3 linked regions of the Homo sapiens genome follow. The protein of the gene in region 3 purifies or fractionates together with the protein of the main gene of each other region. This does not show direct contact. Each region holds a gene or a part of one and is shown on either strand. Other genes may lie near its edges. The genes, in order: TFE3, MRPL45 and NUP155.

Region 1 (3,650 bases), on a different chromosome or scaffold from region 3:
TCAAGGTATGTATGACTTGTCTATCTGATTCCCCTCCCAATTCCTCAGCCCTCCTCTCCCCTCTTGATGGGCAGAGGCCCTCAGTACCAGCCCAACCCATTCTTTCACCAGCCTGCGTTTTCTAGGTGGTAAAATTAGGGACCAGAAAGAGCATGTCACACAGGAAAGTAGGTGGCCAAGCTAGGATTCCAGTATCTCTGTCAAGACCTCCCCTGCCTGCCCCCAGCCCACCTGCACACCCATTCATATGCAAGTGTTTCAGCCTCAGGTGTTCCAGCCGGCCTGGAGTGCTCAGAGATAGGGCGTGGCCTGCTTAAACTCATGTCCCCGGGTGGGCGGGGACATGCCTCTAGCCCCAACTCAGTCCCTTCCCACACTACCAACTCACCCACCCTCAGCCCTTGAGGAGCCCCTGCTGGTCTCTTCTTTCCCCAAGCTTGGAAGTCTAAATGTGCTGAGTCATCGGCCCGGGCTCTGAGAGAGGGGAGGGGAGGGGGAAGAGGGGCAGGAAGAGAGTATTGTGAAATCTCCGAGGTTTTCAAGACTGACTAGCTCCTGGGACCAGAGGCCCAGGCAGGGGAAGAAGAGGAACCTGGGGCTTCTCCTATCACCTGACGCCCACCCCCAGGAGCTCAGAGAGCTTCTCTAGCCTCACATTGGGCTTAGGAGCCCTCTGTATCCACATTCTGCTGCCAAAGCCTCAATTCTGCTTCTTCTGCTCTCCTGTAAATAGGACAAACCCCCCCTTGCAGAGCTGAACAATAGCATCTCCACTTAATATGTGAACAGGCTCAAATCTAGGCTTCACCATAAGGACCAAAGGCTAAAACTCCCCCACCAGACTGACCTCCAGTGTGTCCCCCATCAGACTGTGACCCCTGAGAGCCATCACCAAGCCTGGTTCCTGTGTCTCTGCTTCTACATTGTGGCCTCGGAAGGCAGAGAACAGGCCTGGTTCCTGTGTCTGCTCCGTCACGCTAAGACCCTTTAGGCTTGGGATGAGACTTTTAGCTTACCTAAAATATGGCCCCATATTTCCCATTCCACAGCCTCCCAATATCACTGCAGGCCACACCAGCCACCCCAGCTACACTCTCTGCATCGTCTTCTGCAGGGGGCTCCAGGACCCCTGCCATGTCGTCATCTTCTTCATCGAGGGTCTTGCTGCGGCAGCAGCTAATGCGGGCCCAGGCGCAGGAGCAGGAGAGGCGTGAGCGTCGGGAACAGGCCGCCGCGGCTCCCTTCCCCAGTCCTGCACCTGCCTCTCCTGCCATCTCTGTGGTTGGCGTCTCTGCTGGGGGCCACACATTGAGCCGTCCACCCCCTGCTCAGGTGCCCAGGGAGGTGCTCAAGGTAAGGTGAGATCCAGAGGCCCTGGGAGGGGGCTCCTGGTGACTGAGGAGTGATCCTAGGAGCTAGGGATGGCCTCGATGCACTGGTGATTTGGGGGCAAGGTCTTAGGGGCTCTAAGGAAGGTCCCTGGTACTGTTTAAATTATCTGTGTTCATGTCTCATGTGTTTTGGGTTTCTGAGATGATCTTGTGAAATTGCGAGGAGTTCGTGGGGGCCATGAGGATGTCTTGGTGGACCATGGAGGCTCATGAGTGCCCCAAGTGGGCCCTGGCTTTGTAGGAAGAGCTTCATGTGTGTGGGATACATTAGTTCTTTGGCCATTAGGGGGTCTTGGGAAGCATTGTATGGTTCCCAGGTCTATTAGGTGGTGTCAGAGACTAGGTGGGGAATCTTGGGGACTGTGACAGGGTTTTCCAGAAACTACGAGGGATCCTGTCAGTCATGGGTGGATCTTGGCAGCTGTGAAGGATTTCTGAGAAAGAGAGTTTGGGTCCTGGGGGAGACTCGCTAATATTTTTGGGGTGTTCTCAGATTCTGGGCCCAGCTTGTCTGCGTGAGTCTAGGCACCAATGAGTTAGGAGGGTCAGGCTGGGGCTCAGAATTCACCCCTTTGAGTCCTGTTCTGCCTTGTCCCCTCTCTTTCCTTGTCTACCTTATTTCACAGGTGCAGACCCATCTGGAGAACCCAACGCGCTACCACCTGCAGCAGGCGCGCCGGCAGCAGGTGAAACAGTACCTGTCCACCACACTCGGGCCCAAGCTGGCTTCCCAGGCCCTCACCCCACCGCCGGGGCCCGCAAGTGCCCAGCCACTGCCTGCCCCTGAGGCTGCCCACACTACCGGCCCCACAGGCAGTGCGCCCAACAGCCCCATGGCGCTGCTCACCATCGGGTCCAGCTCAGAGAAGGAGGTAAGAGGCTACAGCCAAACCTCCTCCCACATTCCCCTCCCAAATTCTTCTAAACCTGTATAATATTTACTTCTTCCCCTAGATTGATGATGTCATTGATGAGATCATCAGCCTGGAGTCCAGTTACAATGATGAAATGCTCAGCTATCTGCCCGGAGGCACCACAGGACTGCAGCTCCCCAGCACGGTGAGGCCCTGAGATGGGAGGTTGGTCTGAAAATTAGGGCATTTCTGTATCACCAAGACCATACTCAGTCTGGCTGTGTGTATAGGAGACCCTTGCCTTGATTGTGCTAAGATAGAGAGGGAGGCCTTATGACGAGAACAGGGTATGTCAACAATGCCTTTGGACCTTGTTGGACTGTGTTGAGAGGTGGACCATGTAGACTGTGAGAGATACAGGTGGGGAGTTCACTGAGACAGTAGGGCATATCAAAGTGCTTGGGCTTTGCTGTGAGAAGTACCAAGAGATGATAATCTTTTTTTTTTTTTTTTTTCGAGACGGAGTCTCGCTCTGTCACCCAGGCTAGAGTGCAGTGGCGCGGTCTCAGCTCACTGCAACCTCTGCCTCCCAGGTCCAAGCGATTCTCCTACCTCAGCCTCCTGAGTAGCTGGGATTATAGGCACGTGCCACCATACCAAGCTAATTTTTCTATTTTTAGTAGAGACGGGGTTTCATCACGTTGGTCAGGCGGGTCTTGAACTCCTGACTTCGTGATCTGCCTGCCTCGGCCTCCCAAAGTACTGGGATTACAGGCGTGAGCCACCACACCCGGCCGAGATGAGCATCTTATAGCAACTTGAATGTACCAAGGGATTCAGGTCATCGGGACATATACACCAGACCATGTAATGATTGGAGCATTTTGTTTTATTTTATTTTTACCTTTTTTTTCTTTTAAGACAGAGTCTCACTCTGTCACCCTGGCTGGAGTGCAGCGGTGCGATCTTGGCTCACTGCAGCCTCTGGGTTCAAGCGATTTTCGTGCCTCAGCCTCTCACGTAGCTGGGATTACAGGTGTACGCCACTACGCTTGGCTAATTTTTGTATTTTTAGTAGAGACCGGGTTTCACCCTGTGAGCCAGGCTGGTCTTGAACTCCTGACTTCAAGTGATCCACCTGCCTTGGCCTCCCAAAGTGCTGGAATTACAGGTGTGAGCCACCACGCCTGGCCTTGAAGCATAACAAAAGTTTTCAAACTTGCTGTGGGTTATAACAAGTAGTTGGATCTCGTAGTGATTGGAATATACCAAGTGAACTGTGCCAGGAGGCAGAGTCCTTCTAGTCAGTAGATAAAACTTTCTAGAGCAAGGGATATACCATTGTAACATTCTGGTTTTGAACACTCCAAGAGTCTCATAACTTGCTTTATTATATTTATTTATT
Region 2 (3,750 bases), on a different chromosome or scaffold from region 3:
AAAGATTGAGAAAAACTCATAAAATTGAAGTAATGTAAAATTGGGAAGGATTGTGGATATGAAGTAGACTAATGAAACAGACTTCCATGTAGAGAGAACTATGTTACACTAGAAAAAAACAAAACAAGGCCGGGCACAGTGGCTCACACCTGTAATCCCAGTACTTTGGGAGGCCGAGGCGGGCGGATCACAAAGTCAGGAATTCAAGACCAGCCTGGCCAAGATGGTGAAACCCCATCTCTACTAAAAATACAAAAATTAGCCGGGCATGGTGGCAGGTGCCTGTAATCCCAGCTACTTGGAAGGCTGAGGTAGGAGAATCGCTTGAACCCAGGGGGGCAGAGGTTGCAGTGAGCCCAGATTGTGCCACTGGGCGACAGAACGAGACTCTGTCTCAAAAAACAAAACAAAACAAAACAAAAAAAGCCAGAAAGATTTAAGTCTTCTCTCAGAGCCTCAGTTTCTACTTCCACAAAATGGAGAAATTTCACTCTTGCCTTCTAGGGACAGTGTGAAAGTAAGTTCAAAGAACAACTTCATGATATATAGTGTATATAAGGTTAATCATTATTGAGGTTGAACTGACTTCGTGCTTAATTAAATATTATCAATCATAGTCCAAGTCATCCCAAGTTCCAGAAGATCTCTGACAGAAGGATCCCAGGTCAGGGTCCCAGAAATACCTCACCTGTACAGGCCAGATGTATGGAACGGTCCGATTTTTCTGGAGGAATAACCAATCCTGCTTTCCGGGCATGTTGCATAAACTCCTTTTCTGTTTTAAATTTAGGTTGATAAATAGGAGGTGTGAAACGTTTTTTAGTTCTTACTGGAACTATAGCTGCGGACTGAGTCACCAGAACTGGCTGGAAGGTAAAGGAAAGGTTAGGAACCTAGAAAAAAGATCTACTATCTTTTACAAACTCTAAGCAAAGCACTATAGAGAGGGAATATCCAAAGAATGCTTCAGGAACAATTATAAAACAATATCACAGGGAAAAAATGCATTAGGACCTTAATACTTATGGGTGTCTCTAAATAGAAGACAGTTAGCAACCTTTATTAACATCACATTTACTAAAGGCTTTCCTTTAGAACTTCCCACAGTACAGGACTATGCTAACTCCTACGGATACTGAGTTGATCAAAGCAAGTTTCAAAAACTGATGGTGATGGGGAAACACCAACTCAATACTGAAATGGGCAGAATACTATTCTTTATTATTTTTTGAGGCAGATCGCTAGCCTAGAGTGCGATGGCACGATCACGGTTCACTGCAGCCTTGACCTCCTGGGCTCTAGCTATCCTCCCACCGCAGCCTCCCAAGTAGCTGGGACTAAGGAGTGCGCCATCGCATCTGGCTAATTTTAAAATTTTTTTGTAAAGACCAGGTCTTATATGTTGCCCAGGCTCATTTCGAACTCCTGGGCTCAAGCCATCCTTCTGCCTCGGACTTTCAAAGTGCTGGGATTACAAGTGTGAACCACCGCGCCGGGCCCTGAATGCTATGCTTAAAGCATAAGCAAAGTCCTCTTGTAGGCATCTGCTCCATATGTACTCGTGATATTTTGCTCATCCTATCGGGAGTCTCGCTGTAAACTTTATTCTGTCGTTTTAGCACCCAACTGACCAATAAACCCTCGAAAGATCAGGAGATCTTTTCTCTCTGATCATGAGGTTTGCTCAGACGGGGCAGTGACAATATGGGACGCCCTCATTTTCGGCTACTCTTCAACGTAGTTCACTTATAAGAATCGAAGATTAGGGAGTCCACCTTCCAACCCATTACTTGTCTCTCCTTTAATATCTCCTCGCCAGACAGACCCAAACCAATCCGGAAAAACTTAATATCCGTTAATTCACTCGCTCTCATGGCCCTGTCTAGGCTATCCCCATTCGACCACTGAGCTCCGCAGCTAGGTCCTGTCCACCTAAGCCTCTTCCCCGGCCTAGGTATGACTCGTATTGTCCCAGCTCACCAAGGACAATTGCACAGAGAGTATTTCCCTCGACTCTGTCCTCTCCTGTAGCCCCTAGGGTCCTATCGGCCCCGTCCCTACCCACCTGCCGAGACCACCAGCCCAAAAACCTCGATAAACAAGAGAACCCTTGAGGTATGGGGGCTGCCATCTTGTTCCCGCAAAGGCCGCCGGGAAGGGAGCTGAGAGTGAAGAGCGTCGGGTAGGAGAAAAGCCGCATAGGGTGGAGCTAGCACAGGAGTGGAATTTTCCAGGGAGCGCGCCCTCCGCCGAAATGTGAGCAGCGAGGACGCGCACGTGCTCGCGGGAGTGGGGGAGGGTGGAGTAAGGAGGGCGGAGTACGGCCGCGCGTGCGCAGGGAGACAACGTTGGGCGTAGGGTGGAACGAACTGTTGTCCCCCGCCAGCGAGAGAGCGCTTGAACGCGAGCTGCGCCTGCGCCCGAGGCTTTCTGAAGGCCGGGGAATGGGCATTGCTGTATGCTTGGCACATTGCCGTTTATTCCATTAGTTAAAAAAGGAAAAGGAGGCCGGGCGCGGTGGCTCACGCCTGTAATCCCAGCACTTTGGGAGGCCGAGACCGGTGGATCACCTGAAGTCAGGAGTTCGAGACCAGCCTGGCCAAAATGACGAAACCCCGTCTCTACTAAAAATACAAAAATTAGCCGGGCGTGGTGGCACACGCCTGTAGTCCCAGCTGCTTGTAAGGCTGAGGCAGGAGAATCGCTTGAACCCAGGAGGCAGAGGTTGCAGTGAGCCGAGATCGCGCCACTGACTCCAGCCAGAGCTAGACTCCGTCTAAAAAAAAAAAAAAAAAATTAGTCGTAGGGTGGAACGCACGGTTGTCATGCGCCAGCAAGAGAGCGCCGGGCTTGGTGGCAGGCGGCTGTAGTCTGAGCTACTTGGGAGGCTAAGGCAGGAGAATCCCTCGAACACAGGAGGCGGAGGCTGCAGTGATCCGAGATCCCGCCACTGCACTCCAGCGTCGGTGACAGAGAAAGACTTTGTCTCAAAAAAAAACAAAAAAAGAGATTGACTACTGTCTTCTACTATGTTTACTAAAGCAGAAGACACGTGAATTGACAAAAACATTTGTGATTTGTCATTTCGGAAAGGAGTCACAGAGCAATTACGTAATTTACTTAAGGTTAGATAGATGATAACTGGCAGAACCGAGATTTGAATCTAAGCAGTCTAATTCCAGAACCCATGCAGGTAACTGCTACGTGCTGCTTCATGTTAAGTTGTTAAAGGATTCGTGATGTTGGGATCACCCTGGTAAATTCAGTAGTGTAAACGTTGCTGAAAGGCAGACACTTTCCACACTTAGCCGTTGGTTATTATTCTGCCAATTACAGCTTACAGAGTTCTCATCTACAATATTTTGCAATAAGTTAGGAGCTACAGGCTGTACATACAAGAAATTTCAGGCTGAAGTAGAATTGCTACAAAGGTCGAAGCAAAGTGCTGGGGACTATCAGAAGAACTGAAAGATTACTTTTGGGTTTGGAGATCACGTGTTGTTGTTGTTTTTGGAGACGGAGTCTCACTCTGTCACCCAGGCTGGAGTGCGGTGGCACAATCTCGGCTCACTGCAACCTCTGCCTCCCAGGTTCAAGCGATTCTCCTGCCTCAGCCGCCAGAGTAACTGGGATTACAGGTGCACGCTGCCATGCCCGGCTAATTTTTTCTAGTTTAGTAGAGACGAGGTTTCACCGTGTTGCCCAGGCTGGTCTCCAACTCCTGAGCTCCGGCAATCCGCCCACCTCGGC
Region 3 (3,650 bases):
CCGGGCATGGTGGCAGGCGCCTGTAGTCCCAGCTACTTGGGAGGCTGAGGCAGAATGGCGTGAACCTGGGAGGCAGAGCTTGCAGTGAGCTGAGATCGCACCACTGCACTTCAGCCTGGGTGACAGAGCAAGACTCTGTCTCAAAATAAAAAAAATAAAAAAATAAAAAAATAAAAAATTAGCTGGGCGTGGTGGCGTGCGCCTGTAATACCAGCTACCCGGGAGGCTGAGGCAGGAGAATTGCTGGAACCTGGGAGGCAGAGGATGCAGTGAGCTGAGATCGTGCCACTGCACTCCAGCCTGGCTGACAGAGCGAGACTCTCAAAAAAAAAAAAAAAAAAAAAAAAAAGTACATTTCAAAAAATAGAAAGAACATTACAGCTTCTGCAGGTCAGTGTAGTCATCAAATATTGCAACACAATGATACCACATTCCTACGTCCTTTCACTCGGCCTCTGATGCTGAAAGAAGATTTGCATCTGGAAAGTGGCTTTTCATCATTAGCTTGCTTCATTCATACACTATTGTTTGTCTTTTGAGTTGAGTAAAAGATACAAGAAACATTTTATTTCTCACCTTGTCTATACTGAGCACAAACATTGGAAAGGTCCACTTGATTGCTAATTTTTTGATATTCCTTTAATGATTCCCTTAACATTCTTTCTTTTTCAGTCTTATTTTGAACTTGTCGGGAACGCTGGAGAAGCTCATTTGCCTAGAAGAGGAGATAACAAGAACTTAAAAATATATAAAATCAAGCAGACAGATGATGCTGTCAACTAAGTTTTAGTCTATGTCTAAATTTATATATGGTTATTACCATTAAAATGAAAACAACTCTACAAACTTACTTCTTAATTTTAGGCAGAAAAGTTTTTGACCAAAGATTCCTAGCTATTCTTAATTCCTCTCCCAAATATGTTAAGCAAGAGAACTTTTGTCTGGTAATTCTCTTGCCTAGTCAATACATTATTGGGCAGCAGGCAGTCCATGTGACACTGATTTATTTATTTTTTCCACCTGTAGGAAAGGATCAATAAAAATGCCCCCATTAACTCTAATTCACTAAAAGATTTACTTGAAGTTTTAGTACTTTTCCTTAAGCTAAGGAGATAAATTATCCCCTAAATTTCCTTAATTTCTAAATTTAGTGATTTTTCTTAATTTCTCACCTTTGGTTTTTTAATATGGCCTAGAAACACTATCAAAGATTCTTTATGGGCCAGGCGCAGAGGCTCATGTCTATAATCCCAACACTTTGCAAGGCTGAGGCAGGCGGAGGTCAGGAGTTCAAAACCAGCCTAGACAACATGGTGAAATCCTGTCTCTACCAAAAATATAAAAAATTAGCCAGGTGTGATGGTGCACACCTGTAATCCCAGCTATTTGGGAGGCCGAGGCAGGAGAATCACTTGAACCTGGGAGGTGGAGGTTGCAGTGAGCTGAGATCGTACTCAGTCTTAAAAAAAAAGAGAGAATATTCTTTATGAAAAACTTAAAGGAGGGCTGGGCATGGTGGCTCACACTTATAATCCCAGCACTATGGGAGGCTGAGGCAGGAGGATCACTTGAAGCCAAGAGTTCAAGACCAGCCTGTGCAACAAATCAGAACTTGTCTCTATAAAAAACAAAAAAATTGGCTGGGTGTAGTGGTGCACACCCGTAGCCCCTAGCTACATGAGAGGCCTGCTTGAGTCTAGGACTTAGAAGCTGCTGTGAGCTATGATCACAGCACTGCACTACAGCCTAAGCAACAGAGTGAAACCCTGTGTCAAATAAATAAATAAAAATATTTTTAAAAAGAAAAGCTAAGCTTAAAAGAGTATACACTGGTTTTAAGAAGCCACATATTCCAACCCCTTTCTTAGATGAGGATTCTGAGGCTAGGAGAGGTTAAGAGATCTAACTGACTGAGGTCCTATATTAAGTGAAACAAGATGGTTCATCATACATGATACCTCTTATAACAAACAATGAAATAGGTAATAAAGTATCATACCTTAGAACAAATTGCATCATCAGTGCTATATAGAAGTGGGCAGATATCCTGTAAATGTAAACTAATGCCATCAACAGCGGCATTATCTCTGATGTAGCAGTTGATAAGAGAAGCAATTAATGCCCCTGTGAGTTCTTTGTCCCTGATTACAAGATCTTTAAAGGTGGTGATCTTCAGCTGCTCTTGAAGTTCCTAGGAGCATAAAACTTTTCTATCACAATTATAGAAATACCATATTTCTAAACATAATGAAATTATTTTAATAAATTAAAATAACCTAAATATTAATAGACTCTATAATTGAAAAGCGAAAATATACTAATTAGTAGAAACAAATTTTTGCGAACTTACATAAAATCATAGAGAGTTGGAAAAGAACCTACAGTAGATCTAGTCCAAAACTCTCACTTTCCAAATGAGAAAAGTAAAGCTTAAGTAGAGCCAAAACTAGAGTCAGATCTCCTGGCTTTGGTTATAAAATGGAAAAAACAATCACTTGGCTATATTTGAAAATCTTGGGCTTACATATTACTCCTTCCTAAACACTGTTAGAATTCCATTATTCTAGGCCTTATAATAATATTGGAGTTTAATCTGTATTGTGAACAAATCTGCTTGTCCAAATGAAGCTCTAAAGTATTGATTTATACTATAGTAAAAGATTCTGTTAGTGATGTGACTGCTATCTCTTTTTTCTAAATTCAAGGAAATACCCAAACTGTGTTAAAATTCTTGAACAAATCTTTAATTTGCATTCATTGAGCATGCCATTGGTGATGTAAGGAAGAGAGCTTTGAAGATGGATCACAAAAACATACCCAGGATAAAAACCTACCTACAATATATTTATCACTCTATAAAACTCAAAATTATTATTCTACTTGGTATGAAAAAGATAAGTTTCATAATTAAATATATTAGCTTGAATTTTTAAAAATAAAAAACAGTATGTATTTAAAAGAAACAAAACCACCAACAAAAGCCACACTATTCATTGGACACTAGTGGAAAGAATGAGGAGACTGCCTTCCAACGTTGAAAAATGGTATACGAGAGTCAAAAAGTAAGTGTTTCAGAGTAATGAAATATCCATACAGGACAAGGAAAAAGAATTTTTTTTTTTTTTTTTACAGAATTGCAGCTAGTAACTGGGGAAGGAATCACAGATTTAAAATATTATCCTTTTGGCCGGGCATGGTGGCTCATGCCTGTAATCCCAGCACTTTGGGAGGCCAAGGCAGGTAGATCACCTGACGTCAGGAGTTCAACACCAGCCTGGCCAACATGGCGAAACCCGGTCTCTTACTAAAACTACAAAAATCAGCCAGGCGTTGTGGCACATGCCTGTAGTCCCAGCTACTCGGGAAGCTGAGGCAGGAGAACTGCTTGTACCCGGGAGGTGGAGGTTACAGTGATCTCAGATTGCTCCACAGCACTCCAGCCTGGGTGACAGAATGAGACACTGTCTCAAAAAAAATAAAAAACAAACAAACAAATAAATAAATATTACCCTTTTGTAATCCTAAATGAAATAATAAATTCCAGCAATGATTATCAATGGATGATTAAAATCTGATGGAGAATTCCACAATGGCAGTATTAGGCTTACTACTTGAATCCAGCAATTTATCTTAGTATAACTAAAAGAAGG

What was found.
Region 1: the proteins of NUP155 (region 3) and TFE3 purify together in Homo sapiens (co-immunoprecipitation; one large-scale study listed by IntAct). This does not show direct contact.
Region 2: the proteins of NUP155 (region 3) and MRPL45 purify together in Homo sapiens (affinity purification with mass spectrometry, with the first as the bait; one large-scale study listed by BioGRID). This does not show direct contact.

The regions. Positions count from the first base shown.
Region 1 is NC_000023.11:49,036,810-49,040,459, reverse strand, and holds part of TFE3 (transcription factor E3), read left to right. Parts: coding exon 1-5; intron 6-1,049; coding exon 1,050-1,353; intron 1,354-2,017; coding exon 2,018-2,263; intron 2,264-2,345; coding exon 2,346-2,450; intron 2,451-3,650. UniProt on the Homo sapiens protein: Transcription factor that acts as a master regulator of lysosomal biogenesis and immune response.
Region 2 is NC_000017.11:38,295,565-38,299,314, reverse strand, and holds the start of MRPL45 (large ribosomal subunit protein mL45), read right to left. Parts: upstream 2,148-3,750; 5' UTR 2,132-2,147; coding exon 2,066-2,131; intron 867-2,065; coding exon 689-866; intron 1-688.
Region 3 is NC_000005.10:37,308,553-37,312,202, forward strand, and holds part of NUP155 (nuclear pore complex protein Nup155), read right to left. Parts: intron 2,192-3,650; coding exon 2,000-2,191; intron 1,021-1,999; coding exon of another isoform or gene 970-1,020; exon of another isoform or gene 871-969; intron 716-870; coding exon 577-715; intron 1-576.